4 linked regions of the Homo sapiens genome follow. The protein of the gene in region 2 purifies or fractionates together with the protein of the main gene of each other region. This does not show direct contact. Each region holds a gene or a part of one and is shown on either strand. Other genes may lie near its edges.

Region 1 (8,075 bases), on a different chromosome or scaffold from region 2:
GATGGACACAGAGAGGGAGCAACGGGTGGAATGTAGCTGAAGGCAGGGTGCGGGGGCCTGGTGGACAGCCGGCAGGAGGCACTCACTTGCTGGCTCCAGGCCTGGTAGTAGGCTCCCAGGAACAACAGGCAGGCAACGGGCACTGGGCCCACGGCTCTCCACATCTCAGGTCTGGACAGCAACTTCAAGGTCTGCCTTAGACACGGCTCAACAAGAGGCTGGAGCCCAGACACCTGTGTCCAAGTGACTAAGGAAGGGGTGGCCGAGAGGCTGGCCTCAGCAGAATCACTACAAAAGTGCCAAAGGGTGCCACAGTGAGGATCTGGCTGCCTCACGCCCCTTTACACTCCAGCCACCCCAGCCCTGTGGAGGAGCCCTCCACCTGTCCTGTGGGTCCTGGCTATAAACTACCTGATGGTTTCAGCAGGGGTACTGCCGGCTGCCAGGGTTAGCTGGGTGAGGAGAGTGAGCAGTGAGGCTATCCGCTGCATGGACAGGGGTTGAGGTGGGTGGGTGCTGAGCTCCCGCGGCACCACCTGCAAGGCCCGCATCAGCACTGGGTAGAGCTCCCTAGGGAAGAACAGGGACTGATTTTCACTGTATGAAAGCAAGTGGAGACATGAGACACAGGTCATGGCCCTGACCCAGGGATCTGCAGTTTGATAAAGGAGGATGAGGAGGAAGAGTGGGGCACTCTTGGAAGGCTCAGCCCTAAAGAATGGAAAGGATGTTGTCCTTCAAGGCTGCCCCCAACAGGGAATTTAAATGTGATTTCACAGATACCAATGCTTTTTTTTTTTTTTTTTTGAGACATTCTCTGTTGCCCAGGCTGGAGTGCAGTGGAGTGATGGAGTGATCTCGGCTCACTGCAACCTCTGCCTCCCAGGTTAAACCGGTTCTCCTGCCTCAGCCTGCCGAGTAGTTGGGATTACAGGTGTGTGCCACCACGCCTGGCTAATTTTTGTATTTTTAATAGAGACGGGGTTTCACCATATTGGCCAGGATGGTCTCGAACTCCTGACTTCGTGATACGCCTACCTTGGCATCCCAAAGTGCTGGGATTACAGGCATGAGCCACAGTGCCCGGCTAATGATTTTGAGCATAGAATACGGTTAAGCCAGGTTTATCCCCCTCTTCCCTGGCTGGGCCTGACTCCTAAGCCTTTTCACATCTGGCAGAAGCCCTCCCACTCATTCTTATCCTTCCTCCAAGCTTGGGACCTTGAGCAAGGCTGAGGTGTTTGATTTGGCCAGAAGAGCAGAACTGAAGGTGTCTAGGGGGAGCCTACCCCCTGCCTCTCCTCACCTGTAAAGGTAACCGCCCTGGCCATAGGAGGCAGCCACAGCCCACAGACGGAGGGCCTCGGTGCTCAGCATCTCAGCTTCCTCTGGGGGCAAGGCCAGTTCTTGGGGAGCCTCAGCTATGATGCGGCACAGGCGGCTCCGGAGATCAAAGCTGCTCAACTGGAAATGGGCACAGTCTGAGGATCAGGGTCAGCTGTGAGTCTCAAGTCCAGCTACTCTCAGCTGGACAGAGAGTGGCTTAACTCAACCCTGACCCAGGCCCCTCTGGTGCCACAAAGTCATACCTCATCCACCCTGCCCTTCCTTCTTATTATTTATTTAAAATTTCAATTTTATTATTTTACTTTTTATTATTTATTATTATTTTGAGATGGAGTCTTGCTCTGTTGCCCTGGCTGGAGTGCAGTGGAGTGATCTTGGCTCACCACAACTTCTGTCTCCCAGGTTCAAGAGACTCTCCTGCCTCAGCCTCCCAAGTAGCTGGGACTACAGGCATGCGCCACCATGCCCGACTAATTTTTGTATTTTTAGTAGAGACGGGGTTTCATTATGTTGGCCAGGCTGGTGTCGAACTGCTGACCTCGTGATTCACCCACCTCGGCCTTCCAAAACGTTGGGATTACAGGTGTGAGCCACCGCACCCAGCCCCTATTATTTTTTTATTTTTATTATTATTATTTTTTTAGATGGAGTCTCGCTCTGTCGCCCAGGCTGGAGTGCAGTGGCGCAATCTCGGCTCACTGCAATCTCTGCCCCTCCAGGTTTAAGCAATTCTCTGCCTCAGCCTCTGGAGTAGCCGGGATTACAGGCGCATGCCACCACGCCTGGCTAATTTTTTGTATTTTTAGTAGAGACAGGGTTTCACCATCTTGGTCAGGCTGGTCTTGAACTCCTGACCTCATGATCCACCTGCCTTGGCCTCCCAAAGTGCTGGGATTACAGGTGTGAGCCACCGCGCCCGGCCCTATTATTTGTTTTTAGATGGAATCTTGCTCTGCCACCCAGGCTGGAATGCAGTGGTGTGATCTTGGCTCACTCCACCCTCCATCTCCCGGGTTCAAGCAATTCTCCTGCCTCAGCCTCCCAAGTAGCTGGGACTACAGGCGCACACTATTATACCTGGCTAATTTTTGTAGTTTTAGTAGAGGTGGGGTTTTGCCATATTGGCCAGGCTGGTCTCGAACTCCTGACCTCAAGTGATCCACCACCTCGGTCTCCCAAAGTGTTGTGATTACAGGCGTGAGCCACTGCACCTGGCCAGTAGTAGTATTTTTGAGACGGGGTCTCGCCCTGTTGCCTAGGCTGTAGTGCAGTGATTGGTGCAACCAGCCCACTGCAGCCTCCACCTCCCAGCTCAAGTGATCCTTCTACCTCAGCCTACCGAGTAGCTGAGACTACAGTCATGTGCTACCACATCTAGCTAATTTTTTGTTTTTGTTTTTTGTAGAGACAGAGTCTTGCTATGTTGTCCAGGCTGGCCCCTGAACTCTTGGCCCCAAGTGATCCTCCTGCCTTGGCCTCCCAAAGTGCTGGGATTACAGGCCTGAGCCACTACACCCAGCCCTCCCTCTTTATAGCAAGGCTTGCTGGGCACCTTCTCTAGGGCTACTTGGCTATAGATGATGAATGCCTATGTGCATGAAGCCCTTCTGATCTGGGTCTAGGGAACAGGGAGACCTCCTATTACATCATGAGACCACAGTATACCTATATGATGCACCAGGCTCCAGTAAACAGGCTCCAGTAAACAGGTTCATGCCTGGTGATTTCTGTTGCATTTCTAAGCAACTGGATCAGAGAGGAAGAAGATGGCAAGAGCTGGCCACCCAGAGTTCAGGAGCCATGTTTAGCTCCCAACCCAACCCTGTCCCATGCATTCCCCCATCCCTTGCCCTGTGTCCTGCTCACCAGCCGGGCAGCAATATTCCTCCCAGCTGAGGCCAGGACACGAAGTAGTTTCATGGCAGTAGCACAGGGTACTTTGTATAGACTAGGGGTAGGCCCTGCCCCCACAGGAGACCAACTGGTGGGCAAGAACTCTCGAACTATAGTCTCTATCAGCCGAGGGCACTCCAGGACCTATGGGAGACAGGAGGTAAAAGGGAGGAAGGGAGGCTGTGGGTCAAGACAAGGCCCAGCTAGGCTTTTTGCCCATTCCCTGCTCCCTTTTTTCTCACCCTTGTGGCTGATTCCAGGGAATGCCGGGCCAGGCGGATGAGCACAGCCAGGATGTCAAGGACCACCGCAGGTCCTGGGTATGTCACCTCCAGCACGTAGCGCAGCCGAGGCAGCAGGCTGGTAGCCAGGAGCCCCTGGGAGTTGGAGAGAGAAACCCACTGACAAATGCAGCTGGACCCTGGGCATTGATGGCCCCTCTTTCCAGCATGTGCTTGTCCCCTGGGCCATGGGATGGGAAAGAAGCTGTCCCTTTACCTTGATGACATCATGTCGGGCCAGGTCAGGTGGAGGCCGGCTTTCTTCTTCAGGGCTTTTCCTTTTTGCTTTTCCTGCTGGGCATTCTTCATCCTCGTCCTCATCCTCCTTGTCCTCCTGGCTGGGCATCAGAGGGAACGTCAAAGCTCCATGGTACCAAGAGAAGGTGCTGTCGAGGAGCTCCTGCCAGAGGAACGGGAGTTGGGGGGCAATGCTGAAGGGGCCAGGAAATGGATCCAGGAGTAGAGAGGATGCTCCCCAATAAAAACCATAAAGGCAAGCCTCCTGGGCTTTAGGGACTTTAGGAGATGAGGGAGACGCCTGCCATCCCATTCTACATCTTGCCCGCAAAGCCTTAGCAATGGGGCCATGCCCAGGAACAGGAATATGGACCCTGGCACCTCCCAGCCCAAGCCCCATTCCTATCCCTGTGGTACCTCATCTCCAGGAGCCACCAGCAGAGCCCGAAGAGCACGGATGGCGGTTGCAATGACCCCATCCACTCTGTCATCCAAGGAGAAGCGCAGTAGGAAGAGGAAACCAGCATCCAAAAGGAGGCTTAAGACACTGCCTGCTAGCCGGTCCCCAAACTCACCAGCCTGGGCCTGAGGGCAGGAGGGTAAAACCTTGCTGAAGATGCTGAAGTTATCTAGAGGCTTTGCCCTAATCCTTCGTTTGCCCCCCTATGATCCTAGGTTGTTAAAAGCACATAGCTGGCTAGTGAGCCAGAGTGAAAAGGGCAGGAGATGGGGAAGTCTGAGGCTGTGGGGTGAAGGGAAGGGTGGGCAGGACCAGGCTGGCAATCCACTCACCCTGCTGATGACCTGGGCTAACACATGCAGTGCCAGTGCTCTCTGCTGGGAAACCTGGCTGCGGGTCAGGTGGAACAGCTCCTGTAGGGAATACCCCGCTCTCTGGGGCAGGGACAAGAAGTCAGAAGCAGCCAGGATACAGCACAGTGCCCCCAAAACACCAAGCAAGGTATCACAGGAAAGACAAAGATAAATAAGTGAAATCTGCCCTGCTTTCCATGGAGCCTCAAGCCGGTAAAGATAAGACTTGCATACAAGTAACCATGCCATGAGGCAGATGCAGAGGAACGTGATAACTGATGTTTAATTTGCGACCGGCGGACAGGAGAGAGAGAGAAGGGAACCTGGAAAATTAAATTGGTCTCAGTGGATGGGTAGAGCTTTGATGGCCTGACATGGAGCAAAAGGCAAAGGCATTTCCTGGAGCGAGTGGAGTCCTGGAGGGCCCTGAGCACAGGAGGTATGTGGGGAGAAGCCAGCAGAGTGGTGTAGCAGGAAGTGAAGGAGGCAGAGCAGCAGGGTCAGCAGGGACAAAAGGTAGAAGGAATATCTTGCCCAGCTGAGACCAGAACCTTATTTTGTGAGCAGAGGGAAGCTGGGAAACTTCTGGAGGCAAGGCATGGCCTGAGCTGGGCCAGAAGAAATCAGCACAGCAGCCCCGAGAGACATGGAATGGCAGGGGGGCGGAGAATGGAGGGCATGGAGAGTGAGCAGACCAAGGAAGCAAGGCCACAGTGCAGGAGGCATCATGAGGAGGTGACAGAAGATCGGCAAATTCTAGCAACTGACCAGAATACGGAGAGAGGATCAAGATTTTGAGCCTAAGAAACTGAATGCCACGCCTGTAATCCCAGCACTTTGGGAGGCCGAGGCAGGCGGATCACAAGCTCAGGAGATCAAGACCATCCTGGCTAACATGGTGAAACCCCGTCTCTACTAAAAATACAAAAATTAGCTGGACGTGGTGGCATGCGCCTGTAATCCCAGCTAGTCAGGAGGCTGAGGCAGGAGAATGGCTTGAACCCAGGAGGTGGAGGCTGCAGTGAGCCAAGATCATACCACTGCACTCCAGCCTGGGCCAGAGCGAGATTCTGTCTCCAAAAAAAGAAACTGAATGCACAGCAAAGGCATGAACTAGAACAGGGCACACAGAAGGTCAAAGGCAGTTGACCAGAGATCCTTTTCCATGGGGTTGTTAAAAGAGCTGCCCCATCCTCTCCAGTCCCATGCCTCACCTCTGCCTCCTCTCCATGGTGGTGCAGACCCAGGTGGGTGGGCAGGTCCACGTCAGGGGCCAGTAGTTCTCCCTGAAGACTGAATCGAGCCTGCATCCTCTAATGGGAAGAGAAAGAGGACTGTGGTCTGGGGGCTCCAGCAACCTTCCCACACCCACTCCCCACCTTTAATCCCAGGCCTTTCAGGACTTAGGTACTGACTCTACTTCTACCAGAAATGGGGCTTATCTGGCCTTGGGGGCCAGGCAGAGTGATGGTAAAGGTGGGTGAGAGCAAAGGAGAGATGCTTCTCAGGCTCTGGGCAATAGAAAGGCCTGAGTTCTGAGGGCAAGAGCAGCAGCTCCTCTCCTGCCCTATCTCACCCACCCCTTGTAGGCCAGGTGGCCCTCCTCACCTCCTGTGTCTGCTGCCGCCGGACAGGGGGCAAGTCCTGGGTCCAGTGGAGCTTCTCCAGCTCGACAGTGTCCATGTGCAGCCATTCTTTCTGAGGGGTCACGGGCAATGCCAGAGCTGGGGAGACAAAGCATGATAGTATTACCCAAACGGCTCAGCTCACTATCCACAGGGGTCCCCACCATCACCCAGCAGCTGCCACATCCACTTCTGTTCCAGGATCTGCCAGCTTCTACCCTCGGTTATGGCTAAATGGCATGGCCCAGGGACTGGAACTCCTGGGGCTGGGGTGAAAGTCTCAAATATGACAGACACACTCCATCCTGGGCTCCAGCCCCTTGCTGACCCCAAGGATTTGTTGGGAGGGGAGAGAGGAGGAGAAGGAGAAGGAAGAAAGAGAAAGAAAGGAGAAAAAGATGAAGAAGGAGGACCACATATGTCAGGAAGGCACCATCTCCACTTTCCAGTACCAGCCCTTAAAGGAGTAGGAGAGTGGGGACAATGAGGAGGAGGCAACTATACTGCTCCTGGGGGGCAGGATACAGAAACAAATCCCACAGCATTTTCCTCCTTCACGCCTACCCCCACCCAACCTGCTCAGCTGGCCTGGAGCTCCTCCGGGGGCATGAGGTTCCTGGCTCTCATAATTCAATTTCTTATTTTGTTAATCACTAATGAAATAATCTAGTTTCTGGGAAATGAGTGCTTCCACTGGCCTCTCTGCTTCTGGTCTGGCATGTTCATAAGATCTTTGTCAGATTCTGCCTCTCTTATTACTCTGGCCCTGCCATCTTTCCCCCAGCACTGTGAGCAGAGAGAGAAAGAACAGTGGGATGGACAGAGCCAGAGCTGGGGCAGCTACAGCAAGGACAGGAAGATAGTCTGCCGGGAGCGGGTGGAGTGGGATTCAGCCATCACGCATTGCTGCCTCTTAAAAGGGAAGGCGGAGAAGGGGCAGTAACAGGACAAGAAAACAGGAAGCATGTGCAGGAAGAAGACATGCATCAGCAATGAAGACTGACTTGAAGCCAATAATGAGGATTAATGTTAGATGTCCAAAAGCACAGAAGCTTCTCTCTTCTCTCATTTGCCAGGCCTAGGAAAAGGGACAATTTCCCCTACTTTTATCCACCAAAATATGACCCCCGCCTCCTGCAAACCTGGGGCTTCTGGCTCCAGCTTGTCTCTCTTCCTGGGCTCACTGGCAAAAGCTGACATGAGGGGTTCCTCCTTGGTGACATTAGCAGAGGGTCCTCCTGGCCTCTGCTCCTCAGAGGCTGTCTCTCCTGTTTGCTCTTGCGTGTGGCTGTGAGATCTCAAGAAAGCAACCAAGCTGGGGTCTAGAGGCGAAGGTAGAGGGGAGAGTGAGTGAGGGTAGATCCTCCCTGGCCTCCTACAGACCTGGAACCCGCTGAATATCGCCTGTCTGTGGGTGCCAAGGACAGGACAAGCTGCTTCCGAGCCTGGGCCTGAGCCTTCTGGGTGCTCCTGTGGCCCATCAATGACCCAGCCTTCTCACACCTGTGGGGTCACTAGGCCCACCTGCCCACCTGCCCACCTTTCCCTCTATCCCTCACAGTCCACTGGCCCAGGTTCCTATGCCTATCCCTTTGGTTTCAGGTCACAGTTCCAATGTAAGTGGCTGTAGAATGAATAAGTTAATGTTGACTAGGGCCAAAAAGAAGGCATTTACAGAAAGAATTTCCTTCTCTTAGCTAATTTATTTATGCACACACACATATATATATATATATATATATATATATTTTTTTTTTTTTTTTTTTTTTTTTTTTTTTGAGACGGAATCTCGCTGTGTCGCCCGGGCTGGAGTGCAGTGGTGCAATCTCAACTTACTGCAACCTCCATCTCCCAGGTTCAAGGGATTCTCCTGCCTCAG
Region 2 (8,810 bases):
TCAACACAGGCACAATCCCCAAGATTAGGATCAGCAAACGTTTTCTGTAAAGGACCAGACATGCAGCTCTCAGTCACAACCACCATGCCATGTAGCATGAAAGCAACCACAGCCAATGTGTAACAAATTAGCATGGTATGTGTGGCCAGGGGCAGGGCTCATGCCTATAATCCCAGCACTTTGAGAGGCCAAGGCGAGAAGATTGCTTGAGGTCAGGAGTTCGAGACCAGCCTAGGCAATAAAGTTGGACCCCATCGCTACAAAAAGTAAAAAGAAAAAAACTAGCAGGGCGCCGTGGTGCCTGCCTGTGGTCCCAGGTACTGGGGAGGCTGAGGCAGGAGGACTGCTTGAGCCCAGGAGCTTGAAGCTGCAGTGAGCTATGATCTCACCACTGCACTCCAGCCTAGACAACAGAGCCGAGATCATGCCACTGCACTCCAGCCTGGGCGACAGAGCGAGATGCTATCTCAAAAAAAAAAAGAAAAAAAGAGAAAAAAAGAAAAAAAGTGATAAGGGTAATAATTCCCTGAGGATATAACCTCCACACTTCTGGGTCACCCTGGAAAAGCTTGGGTCAAGGATGCTACCCTTGGCTAGGAACAGTGGCTCACGCCTGTAATCCCAGTACTTTGGGAGGCTGAGTGCAGTGGCGCAATCTCGGCTCACTGCAACCTCCGCCTCCCGGGTTCAAGCGATTCTCCTGCCTCTGCCTCCCAAGTAGCTGGGATTACAGGTGCCCACCACCACGCCCGACTAATTTTTTGTATTTTTAGTAGAGATGAGGTTTCACCATGTTGGCCAGGCTGGTCTCTAACTCCTGACCTCAAGTGATCCGCCTGCCTCAGCCTCTCAAAGTGCCAAAGTGCTAGGATTACAGGCGTGAGTCACCGCACCCAGCCTACCCATATCACTTTCTGTTCCTCAGCAGTTAAAGAGGTGCCCACCCACTTCGCCTGGAAAGTCAGATTCTGTGTGGGGCTGTTGCAGAATGAGATTTCCTCCTGCCAGGGTGCAAGAACTCAAGTAGGAAATGGGCCTTCCCAGAAGGGGTAGATGCTCCAGATTTCCTCAGCACTGTAGCTGCTGCCCAGCCTTGGAGAAACAGCTGCCAAACTGTTAGGGCCCTGGTAGCTCCTCTGAGACCCCAGTCCCTGTTGCTTCAAACAGCTTAAGGAGGGCCTTTATGCTAAACTGTAGTCTGCAAAGCAACCAAACCAAAAAGGGTAAGATACACTTATCCACCTGTAGGGTCCAGCCCCACAGGGTCGGTGGGTTTCTCTCCATGTGCAGAGACGAGAGAGCGCAGAAATAAAGACACAAGACAAAGAGATAAAAGACAGCTGGGCTGGGGGGACCACTACCACCAAGACGCAGAGACCAGTAGTGGCCCTGAATGCCAGGCTGCGCTGATATTTATTGGATACAAGACAAAGGGGCAGGATAAGGAGAGTGAGCCATCTCCAATGATAGGTAAGGCCACATGGGTCACGTGTCCACTGGACAGGGGCCCTTCCCTGCCTGGCAGCCGAGGCAGAGAGAGAGAGGAGAAAGAGAGAGAGACAGCTTACACCATTATTTCTGCTTATCAGAGACTTTTAGTACTTTCACTAATTTGCTACTGCTATCTAGAAGGCAGAGCCAGGTGTACAGGATGGAACATGAAGGTGGACTAGGAGCGTGACCACTGAAGCACAGCATCACAGGGAGACGGTTATGCCTCCGGGTAACTGTGGGCGGGCCTGTGGAGGAGTAGAGTCTTCTCTAAACTCCCCCGGGGAAAGGGAGACTCCCTTTCCCGGTCTGCTAAGTAGCGGGTGTTTTTCCTTGACACTAACGCTACAGCTAGACCACGGTGGGCTTGGCAACAGGTGTCTTCCCAGATGCTGGCGTTACCGCTAGACCAAGGAGCCCTCTGGTGGCCCTGTCCGGGCATAACAGAAAGCTTGCACTCTTGTCTTCTGGTCACTCCTCACTGTCCCCTCAGCTCCCATCTCTGTATGGCCTGGTTTTTCCTAGGTTATGATTGTAGAGCGAGGATTATTATAATATTGGAATAAAGAATAATTACTACAAACTAATGATTAATGATTCATATATAATCATATCTCAGATCTATATCTAGTATAACTATTCTTATTTTATATATTTTATTATACTGGAACAGCTCGTGCCCTCGGTCTCTTGCCTCGGCACCTGGGTGGCTTGCTGCCCACATCCACCAAGTGCACTTTGGGAGGCTGAGGCTGGAGGACTGCTGGAGGCCAGGAGTTCAATACCAGCCTGGGCAACATAGGGAGACCCCCCCCCCCACCATCTCCAAAAATAAAAAAAAAAATAGCTAAGTGTGATGGCACATGCCTGCAGTCCTAACTATCGGGAGGCTGAGGCAGGAGGATCTCTGGAGCCCAGGAGTTGGAGGCTGCATGATGGCGCCACTGTACTTCAGCCTGGGCGACAGAGGGAGACGCTGTCTCTAAATAATAATAATAATATATAAAAAGATATACGTAACCCTACGGGCTCCCCTCTCACTGCTGTATACACCTGCCTCCTTCTGCATCCCTCACCCAATTGTCCCTCCCGGCTAACAAGCCAGCTGCACCCCCCAGGCAGAGGTCCTGCAGCAGTCGGTATAGGCAGCCTGGGCAGGGGGCTTGTCATAGATCTGCCTCTGGCCACGAGATCTTCTGCTCCCCCTACGGCTGCTAGCCGCAGCTGTCCACTACCCCTTAGCTTTATTCTCTCTATTCAGGGGCCTCCTGCTGCGCACTCCAAGGGGGTGCACGTTTCCAAAGAGAGATCAAGGGACATGGGGAAAGGAGAAAGGTACAGCTTGAGGTTCCCGCTCAGCCAGGACTAGGAGGCCTCTGTAGGGGCAGAACAGCCCTGCCGGCGCTCTGAGCATGCGCCGAAAAGCGCCCACGGGGAAAGCCATGCCGGGGTGCGGGGTGGGGGGGTGGGGGGGGGGGGGGGCGGTGCGCTCGCCACTGACGCATGCGCAGAGACACTGGTCTCGCTCGGGGTTTTCTCGCGCCTGCGCAAGATCCTCCAGCCCAACAGGGGGCGATGAGCCGATCCTTGCGCGGGTTTGCCCCGCCGGAGTAATCCGGAAGAGGCCTCTTATTAGGGCTCTGGTGGCGGCGGTGGCGGACACTTGGGGTCTGGACGCAACGGCGGCGGGAGCATGAACGCCCCTCCAGCCTTCGAGTCGTTCTTGCTCTTCGAGGGCGAGAAGTAAGTGACGCCGGCTGCGGAGGGCCGAGGTGCGCGGGCCTGCGGCTGTCGCATTCTGGGGTGTCTCCTGCCCATCTCTTGCCCCGGGAGGGAAACAGCTTTTGCTTGATCGTCTGCTCGGCCTGTGTCAGCCAAATTTAAGGCCGTTCCGCGAGGCAGTCGCGAGTGTGTTCATTTTGCAGATGAGGACACTGAGGCTTGGAGGCGAGCAAGTTGCCCCGGACACAGGAAGTGGCGGCGCTTGTATTCGAACCCAGAGTGTCTGGTTCTCCATAGCCCTTTTCCTCTGGGATCTGGCAGCTTCCTCTTTTTGTCTCTCGCCCGCCACCTCCATCCTTCATCCCCTCCGATCTGTCAGCGGCCTGCGTAAAAGCCGCAGTGGCTCCTCGCTGCCTGCGGGTTGAAGGAGTCCAGGGGAGAGAGCTTGGGCTCACTCTGTATCTGTGGGCGAGTGGCTTGATCTGTCGGAGGCCCTGTTTCCTCATCTGGAAAATGAGTTTATTACTGTACTTAAACGTGGGATTCAGGCCGGGTGCGGTGGCTGACACCTGTAATCCCAGCACTTTGGGAGCCCGAGGCGGGCGGATCACCTGAGGTCGGGAGTTCAAGACCAGCCTGACCAACATGGAGAAACCCTGTCTCTACTAAAAATACAAAATTAGCCGGGCGTGGTGGCAGATGCCTGTAATCCCAGCTACTCAGAAGGCTGAGGCAGGAGAATCACTTGAACCTGGGAAGTGGAGGTTGAGGTGAGCGGAGATCACGCCATTGCACTCCAGCCTGAGCAACAAGAGCGAAACTCCGTTTCAAAAAACAAAAAAAGGGATCTGGCCAGGTGCGCTGGTTCACGCTTTTAATCCCGGCACTTTGGGAGGCTCAGGTGGGAGGATTGCTTGAGCTGAGCACAGGAGTTCCAGGCTGCAGTGAGCTTTGATCGCATCACTGCACTCCAGCCTGGGCGACTGAGCGCAATCCTGTCTCAAAATAAAAAGAATTGGATGAGGTAATTTGTGTAAAACTCTTGGTCCAAAGCTCAGCCCCTGGAAAACCTCATAACCATTGGCTCTTATTGTTCCCAGGTTGGCGTGCAGAGGTCTTGGTCTGGCCCTTGCCAGCCACTTCGGCCTCCTTTAGAGCAGACTCTCAACTGGGGACCATTTGGCCCCACAAGGGACATGTGGCAATAACTGAGAACATTATTGGTTGTCAAAGGGGGTTATGACTGGAATCTACTGGGTAGAGGTCAGGGATGCTGCTGATGTCCTACAATGTCCACAAGACAGCACCCCACAGGAAAGAATGATGCACCCTAAAATGTGTGTGGTGTCAGCCTGGAGAAACCACCTTAGAAAAAAGGATATTCAACTTGATACCTCTCACCTGTGTGAGATTTTACTGTCAGCATAGTTGCCCTCAAATTGAGTGTGCATTAGAATCACCTGAAGGGCTTCTTAAACCATAGATCCCTGCGCCCCACCTCCAGAGTTCTGGGTCCAGTAAGTGGGAGGTGGGAGACTCTTAACAAGTTCCCAGGGGATTCTGATGCTGCTTATCTGGGAACTGCACTCTGAAAACCCCTTGTCTTGGAAAATCCAATGGAAGTTTCCTGTCTTTGTCCATCTAAGCGTTCACTAAAATCATAGTAAATGCCAGAGCATGACTTGTTTTGGGGAATGGATGGAAGGACTGCACACTCCAGCCAGGGGGATGGTTGCTTTCGGAACTCACAGGGTCAGGACCAGCCTCACCGTGTAACTTCAGGGCCTCTCTTCTTCACCTTTTGGTTGCTTCATTATGTTGGCGTAAGAAAAAAGGAACAGGCCAGGCATGATGACGTGCGCCTGTGGTCCCAGCTACTCAGGAGGCTAAGGCGGGAGGATCACTTTAGCCGAGGAGTTGGAGGCTGCAGTGAGCTATGATCACACCACTGCACTCCAGCCTGGGCAGCAGGAGAGATCATTTGAGGCGAGGAGTTCAAGACCAGCGAGGACAACAAGGCAAAACCCCATCTCTACCGGAAAAAAAAAAGGAGGAATTCAGAAAAGGCCAAGGTTCCATAGACCTGGGGTAGCAGGAAGTAGGGGACCGGGTTGGCGAGGCCTTTATGGGATGAAGAGATTGAGAAAGGCCTTCAGGAAGAGGCAGAGCTTATTTTTCCTTTTTATTTTTATATTTTTGATACAGAGTTCCACTCTGTTGCCCAGGCTGGAGTGCAGTGGCATGATCTCGGCTCACTGCAACTCCACCTCCCAGGTTCAGGTGATTCTCCTGCCTCAGTCTCCCAAGTAGCTAGGACTACAGGCATGGATCACCACACTCAGCTAATTTTTTTTTTTTCTTTGTATTTTTAGTACAGACAGGGTTTTGCCATGTTGGGCAGGCTGGTCTTGAACTTCTGACCTCAGGTCATCCATCCACCTCAGCCTCCCAAAGTGTTGGGATTACAGACACGAGCCACCACACCTGGCCGGGAGGAGACAGGGTTTAGACTCAGGGTGGGAGGAGGGGAGCCCCTGCTCCTCATCTGTGGCCTCTGTGTCTTCCTAGGATCACCATTAACAAGGACACCAAGGTACCCAATGCCTGTTTATTCACCATCAACAAAGAAGACCACACACTGGGAAACATCATTAAATCGTAAGTTTCCCGTCACAGGCTCTCAGGGGCTATGTTTAATGGGCCCCTCTGGGCAAAGCACAAGTTCCAAGTCTTCCTCAGTCTCTCTGAGCTACAGGAAGTCCTTCTGGGGGCTTGCTCTGGGCATTTTATAATCTTGGTACCTTTTTATCAAAATGACACCGACCTCCATGTCTTCACATAAGCCACACTTCTGTAGTGGCTTATTCTGTAGATGAACACGTGCATTTACATTCACTGTTTGTTTGTTTGTTTGTTTTTGAGATGGAATTTTCTCTCTTTGTTGCCCAGGCTGGAGTGCAATGGCACGATCTTGCTCACTGCAACCTCCGCCTCCCGGGTTCAAGTGATTCTCCTGCTTCAGCCTTCCTAGTAGCTGGGACTACAGGCCCACGCCACGATGCCCGGCTAATTTTTGTGTTTTTAGTAGAGACGGGGATTCACTGTGTTGGCCAGGCTGGTCTCGAACTCCTGACCTCAGGTGATCCACCTGCTGGCTTCCCAAAGTGCTGGGATTAGAGACGTGAGCTACTGCGCCCGGCCTTACATTCACCATTAAGTGCACATTCTGTAAATGAACGAGCAGCAGATTCCAGCACAGTAGGCCTGTTTGTTATTCATGCTGAGGGACATTGAAAAGCAGTCAAGATTAGCTCCCCTCATGCCACCCGTTTGTGACCTCAGTGCCACCTGGGCCTCTAAGATGTATGTGGCAGAGACTAGAACTTCTATTTAACAAGAGAAAGAAGTAGGAGTTCTGTGGCTATCCAGTGCCCCTAATGGGCACCCTGCATTGGTTGGTGGGTGTTTGTTTATACCAGTGAGGTCCTAGCCAGGTGGTTGGTCAGGGATGTGTCTGCCATTCTGGCCCAGGGACTTGCCATTTTACTGTAGACTTGGCTCTTCCCTCTGGTGCCACCAGCGAAGCCAGGCTTTTCCCCGTCTGTGAGTGGGGTCTGCCCAGTCTCCTGGTGTGGTCAGGCACGGGGATGGAGGAATCCTGCCCGGAGCCCAGCCAGTGGGGCACCCAAGCTCTCCTGGGGCCCTGCTGCTCCCCTGCTCTTGAGCTCAGTGTTGCCACCTATGCACGGGTCCCCCTTGTGGTGCTCACGCCACTCTGAGCCACTCTAGAGGAGACCCCTGCATGCCCAGGGCACAGTACGCGATGCAGCCCCATGGCACAAGGCCCAGTGTGCGTGGCCAGCCGCTGGCGGCTGTGCTGCTCGGAGGGCAGAGTTCCATTTGCATTCCACTCACTGCCGGGAGCTGGCCCTCCTCTCCTGCTGCCTTTATTTGCTGCGTGGAGGCTCTTTGTGGGCTTTTTGGGTCTGAGTCACTGAACACTGGCTGGACATTCACTGCCTGGGAGATCTCTTTGCCAGCACTGCGGTGCCCGGTGGGAAGAGGTTGCTGGAATCTCTTTCCAGCTCGGGTCCTTCAACCTCATGGATGCAGAGTGTGTGTGTGTGGCGGGGATAGGGTGTCCCCACATGAGGTATCTTCCTAAAAGTGTTACTTTCCTTGAAGACTTTTTGGGAAAAAAGTTGGGGGGGATTTTTGGCTAGAAAGTCTGTTCTTCTGCTCTGAGCTGGCTGCTACCCAGCTTGGGCATGAGGCTAGACCCTCACACTGTCTGTCCCTGGACCTCAGACAACTCCTAAAAGACCCGCAAGTGCTATTTGCTGGCTACAAAGTCCCCCACCCCTTGGAGCACAAGATCATCATCCGAGTGCAGACCACGCCGGACTACAGCCCCCAGGAAGCCTTTACCAACGCCATCACCGACCTCATCAGTGAGCTGTCCCTGCTGGAGGAGCGCTTCCGGGTGAGGGCGGGGCCTGGAGGGGCAGACGGGGTGGGCTGGACACTGGCCCGTGTGCCCAGGCCTGGGACAGCCCTGGCCTGTTTCTTCGGAGGTCCTCAGGGAGAGGCGGCGGTGATGGAAGAACAGGGACTTCCACCACAGGCTCCAGGACATGTGGACTGAGGGGCTGTGGAGTCTGGGCCTGTGGCTCCCGTCTGCCCCATGGGACTTCTGTAGTGCTGCAGGGTCCCTCGGGTGCTGTGGGCCAGATCCGGGCGGGGACCTACTGTCCTTTGGGGGTGCTCTTCTACGTCCCTTGTCGGTGATTGGCAAGGCCTGGTCCTTCCAGGCCTCTGGGAGGCAGCTCACCCCAGGGTGGCCCACACCTGTTCCTAGCAGGGCGCCTGGGAATCTAGAACAGTTTAGAGGGGAAAGAGCCACAGCAAAGAAAAGCCGAGGCAGGGTGATCACGAGGTCAGGAGTTCAAGACCAGCCTGGCAAACATGGTGAAGCCCTGTTTCTACTAAAAATACAAAAATTAGCTAGGCATGGTGGCATGTGCTGTAGTCCCAGCTACTCGGGAGGCTGAGGCAGGAGAATCGCTTGAACCCGGGAGGCGGAGGTTGCAGTGAGCCGAGATTGTGCCACTGCACTCCAGCCTAGGTAACAGAGCAGGACTCCATCTCAGTCAATCAATCAATCAATCAATCTCAGCGGTTGAACTACCCTTGACATGGTTCAGCTCTGTATCCACACCCAAATGTCATGTCAAATTGTAATTCCCAGTGTTGTGGGAGGGACCTGGTGGGAGGTGATTGGCTCATGGGGGCCGACTTCCCCCTTGCTGTTCTCGTGATATTGAGTGAGCGCTTGTGGGATCTGGTTGTTTAAAAGCGTGCAGCCCTCCCACTTCACTCTCTCTGTCTCTCCTGCTCCAACATGGCCAGACGTGCCTGCTTCCCCTTCGCCTTCTGCCGTGATTGTCAGTTTCCTGAGGCCTCCCCAGCCACGCTTCCTGTACAGCCTGCAGAACTGTGAGTCAATTAAACCTCTTTTCTTCATAAATTACCCAGTTTCTCATAGTTCTTTATAGCAGTGTGAAAACAGACTAATGGACCCTTCTGGTTGAAGGAAT
Region 3 (6,901 bases), on a different chromosome or scaffold from region 2:
GAGTAAGTGGGATAATAGGCGCCCGCCACCACGCTCAGCTAATTTTTTGTATTTTTAGTAGAGACAGCGTTTTACCATGTTGGCCAGGCTGGTTTCGAACTCCTGAACTCAGGTGATCCACCTGCCTTGGCCTCCCAAAGTGCTGGGATTATAGGCGTGAGCCACCATGCCCGGCCTGCAACTTTTATATTTATTTCTTAGAGGCAGGGTCTTGCTCCTTTGCCCAGGCTGGAGTGCAGTGATGCAATCATAGCTCACTGCGACCTTGAACTCCTGGGCTCGTTACCCTCCCACCTCAGCCTCCCAAAGTGCTGGGATCACAGGCATGAGCCATCGTCCCCAGCTGGGAAGGGCAGTTTATGTTTGTTTATTTTGTGAGGCAGAGTCTCACTCTGTTGCCCAGGCTGGAGTGCAGTGGCGTGATCTCAGCTCACTGCAGCCTTGACCTCCCTGGGCTCAAGTGATCCTCCCACTTCAGCCTCCTGAATAGCTAGGACTATGGGCGTGTGCCACTGTGGCCAGCTAATTTTTGTAGAGATGGGGTTTCACCATACAGCCTAGGCTGGGAGAAGCAATTTAAATAATGTAGTATTTTGTACACCGTACAGATGGTTCCCAACTTATGATGGCTCAACTTTATGATGGTGTGAAAGCTATATGCATTCAGTAGAAATCATACTTTGGGTACCTATCAATCATTCTTTCACTTTCAGTACAGTATTCAATAAATTACATGAGATATTCAATACTTTATTGTAAAATAGGCTTTGTGTTAGATAATTTTGCCCAAATGCAGCTAACGTAAGTGTTCTAAGAATATTTAAGGTAGGCGAAACTAAGCTATGATGTGTGGTAGGTTATGTGTATTAAATGCATTTTCGACTTAAGATATTTTTGATTTAGGATGGGTTTATCAGGATGTAACCCCATCATAAGTCAAGGAGCATCTGTACGTTACTTTATGTATTCGTATATATAAAGGATTCTATTCACAAAACCATGTATGCTGCATTTAACAAATAATTTGAGGAATTTTAAAGAGTATTTTTAACCATATACATTTGTGCTGATTTTAGATTCTGCCCTGACCCTAACCCCCTTAAGATTCAGCAGCTCTCTGTAAGAGAGTAGGGACTGATACAAATAAGGGAGTGGTCAGCTTTGCTGAAGGGTAGGTGGGTAAGGAAAGCTTTATGGAGGCATGACACGTGAGTTGTGTCATTTCAAGGTGAGGGTTAGCCAGTCTAATGAAGAAGAAAAGGGAATTCAAGTTAAGAGAACATGCAAAGGCATAGGGGTTCAAAGTTGAGACAGGTTTCAAGGGTTGCAAATAAGATGGCATGGGCCAAGTGTAATGGCTTCATGCCTGTAATTCCAACACTTTGGGAGTTAAAGGTGGGAGGATTGCTCAAGGCCAGGAGTTTGAGACCAGACTGGGTAACATAGTGAGACCCCATCTCTCTCTCTTTTTTTTTTTTAAAGTATAAAAATTTATTTTTGGCCAGGCGTGGTGGCTTACGCCTGTAATCCCAGCACTTTGGGAGGCCAAGGCGGGCGGATCACGAGGTCAGGAGATCGAGACCATTTCTGTCAACATGGTGAAACCCTGTCTCTACTAAAAATAGAAAAATTAGCTGGGTGTGCTGGCATGTACCTGTAGTCCCAGCTACTCTGGAGGCTGAGGCAGGAGAATTGCTTGAACCAGGGAGTTGGAGGTTGCGGTGAGCCGAGATCGCGCCACTGCACTCCAGCTTGGTGACAGAGTGAGACTCTGTCTCAAAAAAAAGAAAAAGAAAGGTCTGTAACTCGAACATCATTTGGTGGGCTAAGTGCTTTACTTGCAGGGTCATTTAATCCTCATTTCAACCCCTTTTATAATTGAGGCGACAGGCCCAAGGTCCCTCTCCCGGGATGTTTTGGAAGAACAGTTCAAACCTTGGTTTTGGTGGGTGTAGAATCTGTTTCTTACTTTGGAGCCATCTGGTAGTACAACAGCCATGGTGTCCTAACATAGCCAACCTAGCCATGGCTAACCTCCATGTCCTCGTCAGACCCCAGACCCAGACATCATCAGGTTTTGAACTCCCTTAGTCTGGCTCCAGAGCATGTGCCATAACGCAAAATTGCAAGGTTAGTACTGTCCAGTCCTTTGATCCGCAGCAGTGTGTGGAAGAGGCAGATAGAGGAGCATTTGAGTCTGGGTGTTTTTGGAGGCTTCTCATACCTGATTGGTCCCTATAATTATGAGGAAGAGAGGGATGGACATGGTTGGAGTGTAGGCATCAGCGGAAGTCAGATCCTGCCCAGACCAGCTCCCCATCCTCTGCCTATGCTATCAGCCTTGACGCACCCTTCCTCAGCACACTGGGCATCCAGGAGAAGTACCTGGCACCCTCGAACCAGTCAGTGGAGCAGGAAGCCATGCAGCTGTAGCAACAAGGTGGACCCTGGAGAGCAGGATGCATAATCCAGCACTGGGGAAAGTGGAGGCTCCTGATGCAGGCTGCAGACCCAAGAGCAAGTCCTCCCAGCCAGAGCTGGCGGGCTGGCAAGGGGATATTCAGCTCTGCAAAGGACTTCTGGCCAAAAAGCCAGACATGGTGCCAAGCAGAACACCCCCCATACTGTCAGTGGTGTCCGTGAGCTCTGGGCCCTGCCACCAGAAAGTCGAGCACTGGTCCTAGTCAGGCTGTGATGAAATGTGCTACAATACAAGAGTTTATTTTCTACTTTTTGTGACTTCCAAACTTTTCTTCAGTCTTCCGGGCCCAGGGGTTTGGGGAAGAATGAGGGAGTGTCACCTAGCCTTGGAATAATCAGTATTTCCCCAAAGCATATAATTCACATTCAGTCACATAGGATTTACATTCAGTCTCCAGTCATGTGTTTTTATTAATCTTCAGTTTTTGGTTCTGAGGTTTGTTTTTTAAAAGATGGGGTCTTGCTATATGGCCCAGGCTGGACTCAAACTCCTGGGCTCATGTGATCTTCCCGCCTCAGACGCCTGAGTAACTGGGACTACAGGTGTGAGCCACCATGTCCCACAATTTTCAGTTTTAACAGAGCCTCAAGCTTCAGCTTTCACAGGCAACACTTCCTAACTAGAACTTTGTTAATGTTTTATATTCACTGTATTTGTTTTATGGTTTTATTCTATTGTTGACAAGTGTTAACTAGTTTTCCATTTACAGTAGTGGTTAAAAGTTTACTTCAAGGCTGGGTGCGGTGGCTCACGCCTGTAATCCCAGCACTTTGGGAGGCCGAGGCAGGCGGATCCCAAGGTCAAGAGATCGAGACCATCCTGGCCAACATGGTGAAACCCCATCTCTACCAAAAAATTTTTTTAATTAGCTGGGCATAGGTGGCGCGTACCTGTAGTTCCAGCTACTTGGGAGGCTGAGGCAGGAGAATCATTTGAACCCAGGAGTCAGAGGTTACAGTGAGCTGAGATTGCACCACTGCACTCCAGCCTGGTGACAGAGCGAGACTTTGTCTCAAAAAAAAGGTGTACTTCAAAAATGAAATACAAGGCTGGGCGTGTTCACTCATGCCTGTAAGCCCAGCACTTTGGGAGGCTGAGGCGGGCGGATCACCTGAGGTCAGGAGTTCGAGACCAGCCTGGCCAACATGGTGAAACCCCTCTCTACTAAAAACATAAAAATTAGCTGGGCATGGTGTTGCACGCCTATAATCCCAGCTATTGGGGAGGCTGAGGCAGAAGAATTGCTTGAACCCAGGAGGCGGAGGTTGCAGTGAGCCAAGATTGTGCCTACATTCCAACCTGGGCGACAGAGCAAGACTCTGTCTCAAAAAAAAATAGTAAGTTGTGTAAAGAAAAATATTAATTATATAATATGGCAGTTCCTATGAGAGTGTGGCAAAAATCAAGAGGGCTTGGAAGTTTTTTCTTTGCTCTTGCAACTGGCTGGATGCAGTTCATATATTTTTCAACCAGTAGGTGGCACCCCAACCTAATTTTTTGCAGTTGTAACCTGGTGGCAGAAGGGGCAGGACTGATGGCTTGGGCAAGACTGTTATGCCAAGTTTTATTTGCATGTATTTGGACTTTCTTTTTTTGGAGACAAAGTCTCTCTCTGTCGCCCAGGCTGGAGTCCAGTGGCACAATCTCGGCTCACTGCAACCTCCGCCTCCCAGGTTCAAGCAATTCTCTGCCTCAGCCTCCCGAGTAGCTGGGATTACAGGCGCCTACCACATGCCCGGCTAATTTTTGTATTTTTAGTAAAGACGGGGTTTCACCATGTTGTTCAGGCTGGTCTTGAACTACTGACCTCATGATTTACCCGCCTTGGCCTCCCAAAGTGCTGGGATTACAGGCGTGAGCCACTGCACCCGGCCACATTTGGACTTATTAACACATATGAAGTGCTTGGTATTTTAGAGTGCTTCCACACACACAATCCTCATTAGAGATAGACAGGATGGGGAGAATTAATAAGCCATTGCCCGTGTTACAGTGAGGAAGCAGAAAGATGAGAAGTTTGAACTTTGGTCAGCCTGGCTTTCTCATAACCCATTTTGCTGACTAAATTGCGAGTATCCCTCCTTTGGTATATTTATTGGTGAGAAGTCACAGCCCTTGTCCCACAGGTTTTGCAGCCAATCAGGAGAAAGAAATTAGGCACCTGTAAAGTATTACTGAATCATAGATAGTTCACCAGTGGTTTGGGCAGTTGGCAAATTAATTTAGGGACATCTGTTCTGAAACAGCATTGAAATAGGACTGACTGCTTTGCTTTCTGGTTGTGGCAGCCAGAGCCAAAGGCAGATGAATGAGGGGCTATGAGGAGGCTACTGTGGCTGGAACAGTATGAAAGCAACCTCAGCTCCCACGCCTGGCTGTAAAGGGGATAATAACTGGGTGCTGCTTCCCAGCCTCTTTCATCTGAGAAGTTCAAAGCACCTCACCCCTATTAACACCCCACAGAGTAGGTAGGAAGTACCAATAGAGCAAGCCAGGAAAACTGAGGCCAGGAGGCACAGCCTGGGGCTAGCTGTGAATCACCTGTGGGGCCTAGAGCCCAGGAATCCTGACGCCCAGGCTACTGGACAAATCCTTTATCAGGGCATTAGGGTGGGTGCTATGCTTTTGAAAGCAGTACCAACGGCTGTGGTCGTGGGTTTTGATGCTTGCCACTCACAGAGGCCCCAGCTCTCACCATAACAAACCAAATGGGGGCTGGAAGGCATCCTTTACAACTTTATGGTCTCGTATGCAAGCACCCTCAGCATTCTCTGCACCCATGGAGTGGAGATGGGTGGGAGTAATCCAAGGCCTTTATTTTCAGGCCATGGTTTGACAGCAAGGGTATTTTCTTCCCCAATAAACGTAGCTTCTGTCTACCTTCCACTGGCAGCAAAATGATTTTCTGTTCTCTGCATATACTGAGGGGATCTGCACAGTGCAGAAAGGAAGATGTCCGAGATCCAAGTGAGGCCTGTTCAGTGTGAAATGTCTAGGGTAGAAGAAAGACCATCCTCCATTATGGCTGGCATGTGGCAGTCATCCTTAAGATTATTTTTAAATTTCCTAATAAATATAGGAAAGTAAAAAACTTAGAAAATGAAAGAGAAGGCCGAGCACGGTGGCTCACGCCTGTAATCCCAGCACTTTGGGAGGCCAAGGCGGGCTGATCACCTGAGGTCAGGAGTGTAAGACAAGCCTGACCAACATGGTGAAAACCTGTCTCTGCTAAAAATACAAAAAAATGAGCAGGGCATGGTGGCATGCGCCTGTAATTCCAGCTACTTAGGAGACTGAGGCAGGAGAATCGCTTGAACCTGGGAGGCGGAAGTTTCAGTGAGCGGAGATCGCGCCATTGCACTCCAGCCTGGGTAACAAGATGGAAAGTACATCTCAAAAAAAAAAAAAACGAAAATGAGTCACCCAGAATCCCATAACGGAAACTTTCTATGGGGTCATCTGTTTAAGAGAAAAATAAATTCTATATTCAAATGTATATTTTGTGTATTCTCTTTTTTTCTCATCTCTGTAAATACCTGGAGATATTTTATGTATTCTTTCAGCCTTATTTTTATACCTGGGGTGGATATTGCATTTATATAAGTGGGATATTTTATAATTGTGTTGTATCCTGCCTTTTTCAGTTAACACCATTCCATGTAATAAAAAATAGATACAATTCCTGTAATTCTAGGACTCTGGGAGGCTGAAGTGGGAGGATCACTTGAGCCAGGAGGTGGAGGCTGCAGTGAACTATGATTGTGTCACTGCACTCTAGCTTGGGCAACAGAGTGAGACCCTGTCTCAAACAATCAAGTAAATAACCTTTTTAATGTCACTTTGGTAATAGTCCATGGTTTGGCTATAACATTGTTTACCTATCCATACTCCCGTGGTTAGCCTACTACTAGCCTACAAGTCATCACCAACTTTTACTTTTGTAAATAGTGTGATTAATATCCTCGTACCCAAATCATTGTCTGAGTCTCTGATTTTTAACTTGGGAGGTAGTCCTGGAAATGAAATAACTGACATATTCCAGGTTCTGGATTCATGTTGCCAAAATGCTTTCCAAAAAATGTGCCACTTTACATCTCACTGATAGTGTCTGAAATTGCTCTTCTCATCTCCAGACCTCCCTTGACAATTCTCTACAACTTCGGGAGGGAGGAAGCCCTCTCTGAGTGTCTTAGAAGGGACCTTCCTGGTCATCCCTACTAACCACTGACATTAGGTTATATGCATTTCTTGGCTCTGAACTGGGAACCTCAACAATTAGAAGACAGTGTAGAATTGGAAGAACTTAGCAGGGACCACAGGTAATTGGAAAGGTTTCCAGCCTGACAAAGAGGCTTAGGCATGAGGGTGAGGCCCTAAAGCCCACAGAGCTGAAGCACATCCAGTCTGCCTGGATTAGCA
Region 4 (8,075 bases), on a different chromosome or scaffold from region 2:
CATTTGTAGGTGGTGGTTTCTGGATAACTCAGAGTGGCAGGGACACAGACGAGCCTGTGGAAAGGTATACTGCTTTAAGATTGAGAAGAAAACCATTTGGCGCTCTAATTTTGCCTGGATGGTGCTCTGTCAGTCAAAGAAAGGGAACAGGTCTGGGGAGGGGGTAAGGGCACCCTGAGTTCCTGTTCCATCACTTCCCAGGCAGTAGAAGGCTGTCCAGGAACAGCTCCCATCCGCAGCTGGGCATGTGTTGGCTCTTACACAAGAGACTTTAATTTTACTTGAAGAACTAAGAGCTAAATCTTGTTAAGTAAATACGGGGTTTCAGGGGTGAAGGACTATCAAGAAATCCCAAGTTATCAGCATAAAAGTAGTCCCAAAGTAAAGGCAGTAATTCTCCCAATGGCCTTTTCTCCCTCATGCCCCCACAGAGACTTTCGAGAGGTCCTAGTTAGCCAGCCACACCAACCTGCTGTGTTCGCGTAAGTAGCTGTGCCTGTCCCATGGGGTGACCACTGCCTGGTCATGGGAGGGGAGCCCCAGCCCCAGCTCCCTAGCCTTTTCCAGGAGCAGAGCAGAAAGCTCTACTTCGGGGTGCTACATCCCACCTGGAGAAAGAGCTGCACATTCTAGCCTATGAGGGACCCACCCTTTTCACTTGCTTCTCCGGGGCTGGATTGAGGGTAAGTGCAGTACACCTGGAGATCCCAGGGAGCCCCCTTCTTGAGAAAGAGTATCGTATGAAAGAATCCAGCTTCAGGGAGCAGCAAACCCAAAATCTTGCCCAGCTCCACCTTATGGAGCTGGACAACCCTGGGGGCCAGGCCCTTAATCATTCTGAACCTCAGTTCCTTTTTTTTAAAAAAGGTCACAATACAAGAACAAGCTCTACTAACTTTACAGGGTTACTGTGAGGCTCAAGTTAGATTAAGTTGGAAGGCTACCTAGAAGCTGTGCAGTGAGGTACCCAGTTTAGAGGATGGCCATTTCACTTAGGTGGGTTTATCTGGACACCTTTTTCACTATCTGGAGAAGAAGACACATACTGGTTGTTCAGGGCTGCTGTGGTCACAGAGAAAAGCGGACAGCAAATGACCAGGCTGGGCAGGGCTGCTTCTGTGTGATCAGAGACCTTCCCAGCCGGGAGTGAGGCCTTACGCCACACCTGCCTCTCCGTGTCCCAGCCAGGAGCTCCTGGCCAACTCTGAAAAAGGCACATTCCCTACCTTGGCATATTAACACTGCCTGAATTTAAATGTAAAACTGAGTTGTAAATAGTCAACAAAAGTCCCTGATATTTCTTTCGTTTTAGGTAAGACTCCTTCACAAGGCCTTGCGAGTGATCCTACCATGAATTCAGTCTTCTGGGAGCGTGACACACCCACCAGAACAATGCCCTATATATATTTGGTGCTCAAAAAGTGTTTACTTTCTTAAACTTTTATCAGACACCTATGTGCAAGGTGCTGGGGGCATGGCTGAGGACCTTCTCTTTGCCCAGAGTGACCCTGAAGATAAATAGCATCACAATCACTTTCCATAATAACAATAACGTAAAATCCTAACAAGACTGTATTTAAAACAAAACTCTTATATTCTGGCAAATGTGCATACACATGTGAGGGCTGGTGCATTCCAATATCATCCTTAGAAAGTCTTTTGAAAGGTTTATCGTGTTTGGGTTTTTTTGCTCTACCACCAATAAAGGATCCATTTGGACACTCCGCCATGTCTCATGTCTGCCTGGCTGAGTCACTTCAGGGATCCCGTGCTGGCACCAGAGAGCTGTAAGAGCCACCTGCAATGGGCAGGGTGTGTGCCTGGGACCTTTCACTTCCCTGCTTGTCTTCTGGCCGCGTTTCTGAGAGGCACGCCCCCCACACACATCCATGCACACACGCTGTAATTGGCCAACTTCCTCCTTCTGTTCTTGGAATAGCAACCGAGACAAAAAGCAGTTAGCACGAGTGGCTTGGGCTTGCCAACACTACAATTCAGGACAAAACCCTTGTAATTCTCCAAATGGTGGGGTTTTTAAATAGGTTGGACTTCAACTCCCTGTTTTCTAAAAAAGAAAAAAAAAAAAGCATGCCCAAGGCATCACTCTTCTCAAAAACGAAGTGACTGAGATAAGATCGAAGGGAAATATTCCAGAGCAGCAGATTCTGAACTCAAGGCTTCCAAAGATTCACATTTTGAAAACTCTATGGATTTAGGAGGGTTCTCCAGGTTTGCCCACAAGGCCTCTTTGTGTAGGGACCATTCATCCTAAGGAAATCATTCAAATGCAGCCTTGCTGTGGGAATCTCCATCCACTAATAACTGACGGACACCCCCACCCCAGCTTCGGACCTCAAGACGTGAGAGGGCTGCCTATGCACAGGGTGTGGAAGGCTGTGGGGACAGTGCAGGGCACAGACGTGGTGGGGAGAGTGGCCTGCATTTGCATAGTTCCTTTACTAGGGCTCAAGGTGTTGAGGTCCACACTCAAGAGAGGATTCGGGAGTTGGGGAAGGGAGGTCATGAGGGACCTCTGTGAGCATCTTAGGCCTTACACTTCCACACACCTCCTGCCGTGGGCCATCGGGAAGCATGCAGGCCACAGGCCTTCCCCCTCTGAGCCCCCATCTCAGGGAAAAGACATCATAAGTTACAGAAACAGGACAACTGGGGAGCAAGGACGCCCCCCTTGGCAAGCTTCTTTATGTGCTCCCCAGGGTGGGGAAAGTGGCCCAGGACTGTGTTGGGACACACTTGTAGACAAGTGCCTTGTGATGCTGGGAGCAGGGTACAGTGTGTTTCCTAAACATGGCAGCTCGGGACACCTTTGCCCACGGCCTCCCCCACGGACCTCTCGAGCAGAGGTGGTGGGGGTGCCCTAGGGTTTCAACTTCCCCTCCTTGGCTAGTCTGTCATTGAGCTGGCAGAGCTGGGCCAGGAAGCCATCGTTGGGGCCGATCTCACGGTTCTGCCTCACGATGCTCAGGGCAGACTTGACGTCCATCTTCTGCCGCATCATGAGGTAGGCGATAACTAGCGTTGGGGAGCGGCTATAACCTTCCCGGCAGTGGACGAGCACCCGGCCTGTAAGAAACAGGGGAGACGTGGTGAGCTGGGGGCGTCCCATCACACCATGGCGTTGGTCAAGACTCTTCCGTGAAGTGCCACTTAAAAGCACAATGTCACGCCACTGTGTGCCTGTCAGAATGGCTAAAATGAAAAGGATGGAAAACCCAAAGTGCTGGTGAAGATATGGGGCAACTGGAACTCTTCTGCGTGGCTGGGGGAGGTGAGGCGTGAATTGGCACAACCACTTTGGAAAGCTGTGCGGCACGGCGGTATCTCCTCAAGCTGAACACGTGCATCCCCTCTGGCCCAGCAATCCCACTCCCAGGCCCAGGTCCAATAGAGATACGCATTCACATTCACGAACATGGGCCAGAATGTTCACAGGCAACACTGCACATCATGGCCCACAGTTAGAAACCCCCAAAGGCCCATCCACAGTAGAAAGGACAAATACAAAGAATGACCAGACTGCCACTTAGCAGAAGCAACACGGAGGCAGCACACACATATGAGGTGGATGAGCCCACAGAGTAGGAAAGCGGGCAAAACCATCTGTGCTGTCAGAAGCCTGCAAGGGGCTGGGCACAGTGGCTCACGCCTGTAATCCCAGCACTTTGGGAGGCCAAGGCAACTGGATCACAAGGTCAGGAGTTCGAGACCAGACTGGCCAACATAGTGAAATCCCGTCTTTACTAAAGATACAAAAAAATAGCTGGGTGTGGTGGCGCGAGCCTATAATCCCAGCTACTCAGGAGGCTGAGGCCAGAGAATTGCTTGAACCCAGGAGGCAGAGGTTGCGGTGAGGTGAGATTGTGCTGAGATTGTGCTCCAGCCTGGGTGACAGAGCGAGACTCTGTCTCAAAAAAAAAAAGAAGCCCGCGTGGCAGAGGCCCTGGGAGCTGGGGATGGGGGTGGTGGAGCATAGAGACTGGGGGTGCTTTCCAGGGTGCTGGTAGTGTTTTGTTTCTTTTTTTTTGAGATGGAGTTTCCTTCTTGTTGCCCAGGCTGGAGTGCAGTGGCGCGATCTCGGCTCACTTCAGCCTCCGCCTCCCGGGTTCAAGCAATTCTCCTGCCTCAGCCTCCTGAGTAGCTGGGACTACAGGCGCATGCCACCATGCCCAGCTAATTTTTTTGTATCTTTTAGTAGAGGTGGGGTTATTTTAATATAGTGTGTGTGTGCGTGTATATATATGTGTGTGTGTGTGTGTGTGTGTGTGTGTGTATGTGTGTGTATATATATATATATAAATAGACACCATCTCTCAATATCCACAGGGCAGATTGGCTCCAGGACCTCCTGCCGATACCCAAATCCACAGATGCTCAAGTCCCTGATTATAAAATGACATCATATATGCAAATAACCTCTGCACAGCACATCCTCCCCTATACTTTAAATCATCTCCAGATGACTTATGATACCCAAGACAATGTAAACATTTATTAGATTATATCATCTAGAGAATAATGACAAGAAAAAAAATCTGTACATGTTCAGTACAGACATAACATCTTTTTATGTTGTTTTTAATATTTTTCAGACTGAGGTTAGTTGAATCCACAGATGTGGAACCCACGGATATGGAGGACCGACTGTATATTCTATTGGTTCTGTTTTTTCTAGAGAATCCTGACCAATACACTGGTTATTAACTCATGATCCACCTAACCTCAAGGTGCCTCAGTTTTCTTATCTGGCCAATAGTACCCATTGCACAAGGTGGTTAGATTAAAGGAGAGGACACATGAATCCTCTAGGTTAGCACCTGGCATCCATGTGCACTCAATAAATGTTACCCAATACTGGGCATCCTCTGGTAGCACCTAGTACACCCTCAACTACAGCAGCCCTGGTCCTGTGTCATTGCCAGACATGCGCAGATTGACTTTTCTCTCCCAGAGGACGAATTCTTTAAGAGCAAGAAATGGCCGGACACGGTGGCTCACACCTATAATCCCAACACTTTGGGAGGTCGAGGTGGGCGGATCCCCTGAAGTCAGGAGTTCGAGACCATCCTGGCCAACATGGCGAAACCCCGTTTCTACTAAAAATACAAAAAATTAGCTGGGCATGGTGGCACATGCCTGTAATCCCAGCTACTCAGAAAGCTGAGGCAGGAGAATCACTTGAACCTGGGAGGTGGAGGGTGCAGTGAGCTGAGATTGAGCCACTGTACTCCAGCCTGGGTGACAAGAGCGAGACTCCGTCTCAAAAAAAAAAAAAAAAAAAGGCAAGAAATGTGGGGCATTGATTTTTGGATGCGTTACAATCTCTAGCATACACTATGTGCTCAATAAATATTTGCTGACTAGCTGAGTGAATTATTACCTACTAACACCTCTATAAGGCCATTGTTTGGCAAGGAATCTGCTAGCCCAGAGTCCAACAGAGTCTCTTCTGCTCCTATCACCCTACCCCCAAAACACCACTCTATTTTCCCAATGCCTTCCAAATCAGGAAGCAGGAGTCCTCCACTTTCTTGCCCATTCACCCTCCGGCCTGTATGCCCGAAATATTCAGAGTGGGGCTTCCCCTGCCCCACCCTAGGAATGAGACCCTCTGCAGAGCAGCCACCTTACCATCTAGAACATACTCTGCATGCCCAGTGCACACAGAGCCTACTGGGAAAGGGGCCAGTTCAACCTCCCATTCCTCTAGGCTCAGCCCAGATGCCACCTCCTCCATGAAGCTGTTTTCCCAGCTAGAAGTGACTGCTCCCTCTTGAGTACCCTCAGCCATCCCACCCAGCTCTCAGTGATGGGTCCCTGGGCCCCACACACTGTTGGAGGCCAGCATGTTTCTGTTGACTCACTTCGCCACTCATTCTTAGAAGCATTTATACTTGGCATTAGAGCCCATGGAATTCTTCATCACTTGCTCATTCATCATTTGCAGTGTACCTACTATGTGCCTGATGCTACATCAGGTGCTAAGGAGACAGACAAGGAACAAAGTAGACCCAGCCTGAGGGCAGGCTTCATGGAAGAGAGGACACCATGCCAAGGACAAGGTGGAGTTTGCCAGAGGAAGGGGTAGGGAGAGGCAGAGAGAACTTTTCAGACTAAAGACCCAGCACACCTGGACTGAGACAGGTCAAAAAAAGGGCGTGTTCCTAGTTGTTTGGAAAGAGGAAACAAAGTCAGAGAGCTTGAAATTCCCTGAATGAATAACCAATTGCTATTATACGAGAACAACAAAATCCTTCCCCTTCGCCCAGCCTATGTTTACACAGGGTGAGGAACTCAGTACAGCTGGAGTGGAGGAGGTGAGCAGGGTTGGGGGGTGACAGTGACCAGGAAGGACCATGAGGGGCCTGTCAGCAAAGTCTGCAGATACTCCACAGTAAAGCTTCTCTCTGAGCCCTGAGCGTTCACTGTCCAGTGGTCTAGAAAATTCTGTTTACTGGAAATCATTCAGACAGTGAGCCTGCTGGGCCCAAGAGTCATCAGTGTAGTACAGCCAAGGCTGTTCACACCTCATGGGGGTCCCCTCCGCTGGGAGGGTTTGGGGTGGGGAGAGACGAAGAGGTAAAGGGAGGAGCTGAGAGAAACAGCTAAAAGCAGAAAGGGAGAAAGGGCAAGTGGCCCAGCCTGCTCAGCTGATGTCTGCTTTGTGGCCTTCTAGGGTTTCTTGCTGGAATGCCTTGGTGACTGCCAGCGCCTTGGTAGTTCTCCTTCAGTCTTATCTTATATTTGGGGGCTGCAGGAAGTGTTTCGTAAGTGGCTGGAAGATTTGGCCAGGGGGGCTGTGGTTTGCTGACTGCCAACCTAAGCTGACCGCAGCTACCCCTTTTCTCCTTGCCAGGCAATCACGTGAATCTCTAGCCAATGAGATGTGAGGGGTATTTCTGGGAAATGTTTTACTTGTTCTTAAAGAGAGAGACTGGGCATGGTGGCACGTGCTTGTAGTCCCAGCTACTCAGGAGGCTGAGGTGAGAGGACTGCTTGAGCCCAGGAGTTGGAGACCAGTCTAGACAACATAGCAAGACCCTGTCTCTTTAAAAAAGAGAGAGAGAGTGGCCAGGCGCGGTGGCTCATGCCTGTAATCCCAGCACTTTGGGAGGCAGAGGGAGGCGGATCACCTGAGGTCAGGAGTTGGAGACCAGCCTGACCAACATGGTGAAACCCCATCTCTACTAAAAATACAAAATTAGCCAGGCGTGGGGGCGCATGCCTGTAATCCCAGCTACTTGGGAGGCTGAGGCGGGAGGCTGAGGCAGGAGAATCGCTTGAACCTGGGAGGTGGAGGTTGCGGTGAGCCAAGATCGCGCCATTGCTCTTCAGCCTGGGCAACAAGAGTGAAACTCCATCTAAAAAAAAAAAAAAAAAAAAAAAAGGAGAGAGAGAAGAGGAAAAAAAAGAGTGGGAAGAGATGGCTGCAGGGCCTCATCTGCTGTACTTTGTCCTGCTTGGATGTGGTGACTGGATCCCATCTTGGGACCATGACGGGAGCACCCAACACTGAGGTGGCAGAAGAGAGAAAGGGAAAGGGCCTGGTCCAGAGGCCACCATGGAGCTGCTGAATCAAGCAGCCCCTTAATCAACCAGCCCCCATGCTCCTTCACCTCAGGACTTCTTGCCATGCACATTAACACATTAACACATCTTCCTCATCGTTACAGCTGTTTGAATGGGGGACGTGTAAGCAACTGGAAACCAACCTCCAGCCAAAGTGCAGTCAAACGCGAGGACCCTGGGGCTGCCATGGTGTGAATGAGTTGCACATCCTGTGACACACGGGGCCACTTGACAGCCAGCCAGGTGAGCAGAGAGAGACCTACAGCTCTGTCGTTCACCCCAGAAGATGGGAAACAAGGGAGTTTCTAAGAAGAGACCTGTTGTGGGCCTGTTTTCCAGAGGGACAGTCCAGTCAGAGCTGCCTCCCATCTTTTCCTGGTGGGAGGTCCCTTACCATTCTTTTGAGCCAAAGCCTGGTCAATGAAGTCGGCAGCCCTTTCAAAGTAAGCGCTGAGGTTGAACTCCTGTGTGTCGTTGGCCTTGATGCC

Evidence for each region.
Region 1: the proteins of POLR2J3 (region 2) and RPAP1 purify together in Homo sapiens (affinity purification with mass spectrometry, with the first as the bait; one large-scale study listed by BioGRID). This does not show direct contact.
Region 3: the proteins of POLR2J3 (region 2) and GPN2 purify together in Homo sapiens (affinity purification with mass spectrometry, with the first as the bait; one large-scale study listed by BioGRID). This does not show direct contact.
Region 4: the proteins of POLR2J3 (region 2) and DUSP3 purify together in Homo sapiens (affinity purification with mass spectrometry, with the first as the bait; one large-scale study listed by BioGRID). This does not show direct contact.

Annotation. Positions count from the first base shown.
Region 1 is NC_000015.10:41,523,685-41,531,759, forward strand, and holds part of RPAP1 (RNA polymerase II-associated protein 1), read right to left. Parts: intron 7,519-8,075; coding exon 7,339-7,518; intron 6,296-7,338; coding exon 6,180-6,295; intron 5,885-6,179; coding exon 5,786-5,884; intron 4,653-5,785; coding exon 4,551-4,652; intron 4,344-4,550; coding exon 4,176-4,343; intron 3,922-4,175; coding exon 3,739-3,921; intron 3,618-3,738; coding exon 3,483-3,617; intron 3,385-3,482; coding exon 3,214-3,384; intron 1,465-3,213; coding exon 1,307-1,464; intron 571-1,306; coding exon 412-570; intron 289-411; coding exon 87-288; intron 1-86. UniProt on the Homo sapiens protein: Forms an interface between the RNA polymerase II enzyme and chaperone/scaffolding protein, suggesting that it is required to connect RNA polymerase II to regulators of protein complex formation.
Region 2 is NC_000007.14:102,566,896-102,575,705, reverse strand, and holds POLR2J3 (DNA-directed RNA polymerase II subunit RPB11-b2), read left to right. Parts: upstream 1-3,122; 5' UTR 3,123-3,184; coding exon 3,185-3,234; intron 3,235-5,781; coding exon 5,782-5,871; intron 5,872-7,521; coding exon 7,522-7,696; intron 7,697-8,622; coding exon 8,623-8,655; 3' UTR 8,656-8,740; downstream 8,741-8,810. Other genes in the region: uncharacterized protein LOC124901712, read left to right, coding at 1,782-1,899. UniProt on the Homo sapiens protein: DNA-dependent RNA polymerase catalyzes the transcription of DNA into RNA using the four ribonucleoside triphosphates as substrates. Component of RNA polymerase II which synthesizes mRNA precursors and many functional non-coding RNAs.
Region 3 is NC_000001.11:26,875,209-26,882,109, reverse strand, and holds the end of GPN2 (GPN-loop GTPase 2), read left to right. Parts: intron 1-2,360; coding exon 2,361-2,433; 3' UTR 2,434-5,978; downstream 5,979-6,901. UniProt on the Homo sapiens protein: Small GTPase required for proper localization of RNA polymerase II and III (RNAPII and RNAPIII). May act at an RNAP assembly step prior to nuclear import.
Region 4 is NC_000017.11:43,766,731-43,774,805, forward strand, and holds part of DUSP3 (dual specificity protein phosphatase 3), read right to left. Parts: coding exon 7,982-8,075; intron 3,085-7,981; coding exon 2,879-3,084; 3' UTR 1-2,878. UniProt on the Homo sapiens protein: Shows activity both for tyrosine-protein phosphate and serine-protein phosphate, but displays a strong preference toward phosphotyrosines. Specifically dephosphorylates and inactivates ERK1 and ERK2.